Linked DNA regions of Homo sapiens: region 1 is linked to region 2. Evidence: fine-mapped expression QTL. Tissue or cell type: hypothalamus. Region 2 holds a variant in brackets; the other region holds the start of a gene. All regions are shown on one strand. Distances are between the middles of the regions.

Region 1 (2,750 bases), 760 kb before region 2:
CACTCCCTCCCAAAGCTCTGGCCCTCCCTCTTCTTTCCATTGCAAAAGCAAGTCCAGTTCAGGGGGTTTAAAAAGCCAGAAACAGAAACTGTTAGGTCACTATCTGGAGAGGCCACCACCCCACCACTCTGCCTCCTGTTGGCATTGTCCCCATGGGAGCAAGCGTGCAAGCCTGGAATTGTCCAGGAAAGAAGTCCCAGTAGCACCCGGCCCTGCTGCCATGCCCTTTGTCATGTGCTGTCCCGGCCCTCCCCTCACCTCATTCATTCCTGGAATCCCTGCCCCTTGCTCCAGGGACTGTGCCCCTCCCATGATGTTCTGGGGTGGCCAGAACGTGGCTGCCTGGGCTCTGTGGAGCTGTGCCTCAGCATCCTGACAGCCGTATGTGGTCAGCATGGGTGGCCACACTCCCTCCCCTGGACCACCCGTGTTTGCATTGGGGTGAAAGAGGATGGGGTGTAATTACTTGATTACTTCTGGTCAGACTCTGTCCTCGGGGCCCCAAGCCACAGGGGAATGGATTCTCCCTGGGTAGTGGCCCCTGACTTTGCCCTCAAACCTTTAGAAAGTTTCCTGTGGGGCTTGGACTGCAGGACCCCATAAAAGCCACCACTGAGGGACACTGGGCCTTCATAGCCACAAAAGGTCTTTTGGTGCCAGCCGACAGTGGGCATGCGCCCCCCTGCCCCACGCCGCCCTTTCCTGGGTGCCAAGCTCTTTCCAAGCGACATTTGCGTCCATCTGGGCTGCCTCGTCCTAGCCTGGCTGCTCAAGCTCTAACTAAGGCAGCCTCTGGCCTCCCTCCCCAGGCCCAGGGCAGGAGCTGGCTGCTGGCCAGCGGTTGTCTTCTGGGTCGGTGGGGGTGGAGTCTGGCTGGTCTGTCCTCCACCCTTTCCGCCGCCTGGCAAGTCCTGAGCTGCACCTCATTGCCCGGCCAAAGGGCAGAGACACGAGCGACTGGGGGCACCTCTGGTGACCAAGACCGGGCTGCGCTCCAAAGAGGCCGTTGGGCCTGGAGTGGGGTTGGGGGGTCCGAGAGGAGTTGGGTGACATCCCCCACCCCATCCCGGGTCCAGCTGTTTCAGCCCCTCTCGGCGCGCCGATACTATTAGCCCCACCCGTCCTCCATCGAGTCCCGTGCCGCTCCCAAACGGCACGATAAGCCCCACAGGGAGTGCGCCATAGGCCGGGGCGCGTCACGGGGTCGGGGCGGGGCGGAGTCCGGACGTCGGGAGCAGGATGGCGGCGGAGCAGGACCCCGAGGCGCGCGCGGCGGCGCGGCCGCTGCTCACTGACCTCTACCAGGCCACCATGGCGTTGGGCTATTGGCGCGCGGGCCGGGCGCGGGACGCCGCCGAGTTCGAGCTCTTCTTCCGCCGCTGCCCGTTCGGCGGCGCCTTCGCCTTGGCCGCCGGCTTGCGCGACTGTGTGCGCTTCCTGCGCGCCTTCCGCCTGCGGGACGCCGGTAGTCCCCCGTCCGCGCGACGAGCCCCCCACGCCCGGCAGAAACCCCCACCTATGGCCGGTGGAAGTCCTTGTCCCCCCGTGGAACCCCCCATGTCCCACGACCGGTCTGTCCCCGCGCTGGTCTCAGCGCAGTTACCTCGTTTCCAGACGTGCAGTTCCTGGCCTCGGTGCTGCCCCCAGACACGGATCCTGCGTTCTTCGAGCACCTTCGGGCCCTCGACTGCTCCGAGGTGACGGTGCGAGCCCTGCCCGAGGGCTCCCTCGCCTTCCCCGGAGTGAGTAGGGGTAAGCGGGCGGCGCGGCGGCCACGGGGTGCTGGGCCGAGCGCGGAGCTGACTTCTCTCCCCGCAGGTGCCGCTCCTGCAGGTGTCCGGGCCGCTCCTGGTGGTGCAGCTGCTGGAGACACCGCTGCTCTGCCTGGTCAGCTACGCCAGGTGGGCTGCGGGCCACTGGCAGGGAGCGTGGGCATGGGATGGGCCCCCAGCGCCGGGGCTCCGTGCTGGACTGTGGCGGCGGGGCTGGCTGCCCAGGGGTCCCAGGACTGGCCTCCCGCCCCCACTCTTCAGGGTGTAAGGAGGGGCTGGGTGAGGGTGGAGCTCCCAGGTTGGAAGTTCCAGGCCCCAGGTAACCGCCGTCTTGGGTGGCCTAGTGATCCTCACCCTGGGACCCCCTGACTCTTGGCTCCCCACAGCCTGGTGGCCACCAACGCAGCGCGGCTTCGCTTGATCGCAGGGCCAGAGAAGCGGCTGCTAGAGATGGGCCTGAGGCGGGCTCAGGGCCCCGATGGGGGCCTGACAGCCTCCACCTACAGCTACCTGGGCGGTGAGTGTCTGGTGCGGGGCAAGGCAAGGGCCGGGAAGGAGGAGCCCCATCTTGGCCCGAGGTCCCCCAATCCCACCGCCTTCCTCCCCAGGCTTCGACAGCAGCAGCAACGTGCTAGCGGGCCAGCTGCGAGGTGTGCCGGTGGCCGGGACCCTGGCCCACTCCTTCGTCACTTCCTTTTCAGGCAGCGAGGTGCCCCCTGACCCGGTCAGTCCCTCCTCTAAACCCTGCTGTCTCCAGGCGACAGGCCCCAAGCCAGCCCTTGCCCTGGCGAGAGGTGTGCCACCCAGGCAGGTCACCCCAGTGCTGTCCCAGGAAGCTGGCACGGGCTGCATTACCTTTGCTCTCAAACTAGGGTGTCCCTGGCTGCTCCCAGGCCTCATCCTGCATTCCTGGCCCCCATTCTTCACCGACTCTGTTCCACAGATGTTGGCGCCAGCAGCTGGTGAGGGCCCTGGGGT
Region 2 (2,750 bases):
CCCAGTGTTAGGACAAGCCCCAGCCCACATGCCAGCCCAGCCTCTGCGGCAGAATCAGCAAGGTGGTGCTTTCCACAGACATTCCAGCCTCCAGAGGCGTCTACAGGCCCCCTGGGCCCAAAGGCTCACAGAGCCCTCTAAGCACCGGGCTCTGGGCTGAGTCCTGCAAGCTCAGGGAAAGCGCTTCCCTTCTGCTGAGTGGACTCAGCACATTGGGGGTGGCCTTCCACTGCGAGAGGTGGAGCAATGGGACCTGAGGCCACTGGCATGTGTCCACTGAGGAGCGGCCTGCCTTCTCCCTCGCTGACTGGGTGGGGAGCCTGAGCTCACAGATGCAGAGCTCTGGAAATAGAGACCCTCAGAGCCATGCTGGTGATGCCACCCGAGGGCCTCCTCAACGCCGGCCCCTGCTGGCATCCTCCAAGCTGCAGGAGGAAGAGATCCAAGGGTAATCTCATACCTGCTTGACCCGCTTTGTCCCCAGCCGATGCCCTCTCCCAACCTGGCAAAGGGGTATGAACTCAACATCTAGGCCCAGCAGAGGAGCTCCACACCCCCGCAGGTATGACCTTGCCTGTCCCTTTGCTCTCCCAGGTCCTAGTAAGGCTCTGCACCTGGACTGGGCAGGAACGGCCTTCTGCAGGCTGGCCTTGCTGGATGGCCCTGCACCCTCCCTCTGGGCTCCTGCACCCTACGCTGCTGCCCCCACCTGGGCTGTAAACCCTGCCCCTTGTGTCTCAGCCATCCCTTCTGACCGACCTTGCTGTGGGCAGGCTCTCACGGGGTCCTTCTGCACATACAGGATTTGGCCCAGCCCCGGCATAGGGCCCAGCCAGCCTGTCTATGACATGGGGCAGGGGGGAGGGGAGGGAATGAATGAATGGCTGAACCAAGGACCCACCATGGGCAGGACTAAGCTGTAGGGAGGCAGCACTGCCCTGCTTCTAGGGATCTTAGGCTCCAGAGTCAGGTGCAGAGCCTGCAGGGCGTCTTGGCTTCTGACCCTAAGGGATGCAGGCGTGGCCTTCCCTTCATGGGTGAGGTTGTATCTGGAAGATAAAGCAGAGGTTTGCAGGGTGGGCCCTAAGAAGGCCATCGGGGAGGCTGGGCACCGGTCCAGCTTGCACCTAGGGACACGACAGCTCCACACCCACTTATCCCCAAAGCCAAAAGAACCCCAGGAATTCAGGGACAAGAGGGCTCTGGGTGGAGTCACGGGAGGCTTCCTGGAGGAGGCAGAGGAGAGAATCTGAGGAGAGGGTAGAATGAGGGAGACCTGCAGGCAGGGCACAGCCAGTGGCAGTGGCAGGCGCCTGAGCTTGGCCAGCATCCAGGCATGGGTGCTGTGGGACTCACTGTGATAGGAGTGTGCTCTGGTTACCTGTGAGCCAGGCTTTCCTGGGGGTGGGCTGTGGAAATGCCCGGAGGGGTTCCAAGGCCCATGAGGGCTGGAGGCTGGGGTAGGCAGGCTTTGCGGCGTGAGCTGGTGAAGAGGCACCCCTGCCAAGATACTCACCGCTCCACACTACCTCCTGCCTCAGTTTCCCCAAGGTGCTCAGGACAGGAAGCACAACTGCTCAGAAGAAAGCCCTCCTGAGGTGGTCCCTCTGTGAGCAGACGTGCTGTCCGGCAGACCACATCCTGCCCTCAGGGCCCTTGGCAGACAGGGCC[G/A]GCTCTCCACCTGGCAGACCCACCCAGGTACCCACTCGCCAGCCCTGGGTCACACCCTTGGTCCAGGGGGTGTGCGCCCGGCCTCCCCTAGATGTTTTGGCCTTGCCTACAGAGGTCGCAGTCCCTTCGGGAAACTCCTGAATTTGTCGCAACTGGGTAGAGTCCATCTCTGTACTCTCCTCCCACCAGTGGGCAGCATCCCACCTCTACCCCTTCGGTGAGTCGTGCCTCTGGCCCTTCGGTGAGTTGTGGCCATGGTCCAGCTGCCCGTGTGGCCAGCGACGGTCATTCAGCAATGGCGACGGCTGTGTCTGAGGGTCCCACAGAAGTGTGAGGGGGGATGCCACTCCAGGGGTCGCCAGCAGGCAGCAAGTGTGGGTGGCCTCACAGAGCCTGTTCCGTTTAGGAAATTCTCTCCAGAATACTCCTGGAGAGGCCGCAACACCCACCCCAGCTCTTAGCCACGTCCTCCTCCTGCCCATCTCCCCCAGGGCTTCCCCTAGCCAACCTGTACGACTCCTGTCTCCTGGCCCAGGAGGCAGCTGGGGTCTCTGGGGACAGCCTGATGGGCTCTGCCTTACCCTCCCCAGGCCTGTGAGGGGCACGGGGACTGTCCTGGCCCACCCTGGGCTGTGCCACGGTTCCCAAGACTGTGCAGCCTCTGTGGCTGCCTGCTTCCCTCAAGGGTCTTTCTTAGCTGGGCTACAGGGAACAGGACACTTAGCCGTTTGCTTCCCAGAAGCCCAGCAGAGGCTTGGGGGCCCAGCGCTGTCGGCAGCCTCCTCCTCAGTACAACTGCCCCTTGGGACCCAGCCCCTCTCAGTTCTCCCACCCCTTCTCGCTCCCAAACTGCGCAGCTCTTGGCACCCCCTTCTTACCACCCCCAGCACTTGGCAAACACTTCTAGAGGAGGCCTTTGCTAAAAGGAGTCTGGGCCATGGGTCGGCACGGCCCTGTGGCGTCCATCAGAGCAGCCCTGGCTGTGGGCTCCTCTCCCTCTTGCTGCAGGGTCACTGACTTCTAGGCGTCTGGAGTGAGGGTCTCCAGGGAGGTCATGCCCTGGCAGGCCAGAAATTGGG

The links. PIP is the estimated chance that this variant, and not a neighbour inherited with it, causes the effect.
Region 1: it holds the start of NAPRT, and the variant in region 2 is fine-mapped to the expression of NAPRT in hypothalamus (GTEx, PIP 0.96).

The regions. Positions count from the first base shown.
Region 1 is chr8:143,576,808-143,579,557 of GRCh38, reverse strand. NAPRT (nicotinate phosphoribosyltransferase) reads left to right here and starts at 1,228. Exons shown (of 13, transcript NM_145201.6): 1 at 1,228-1,465; 2 at 1,615-1,742; 3 at 1,819-1,901; 4 at 2,159-2,289; 5 at 2,381-2,496; 6 at 2,716-2,750. The coding sequence starts at 1,240. RefSeq lists enhancers at 4-912, 913-1,820.
Region 2 is chr8:142,819,053-142,821,802 of GRCh38, reverse strand. No RefSeq gene overlaps it. Among named protein-coding and RNA genes, the nearest start is that of GML, 14 kb to the left of the region's middle. The variant G/A (reference allele first, on the strand shown) is at 1,672.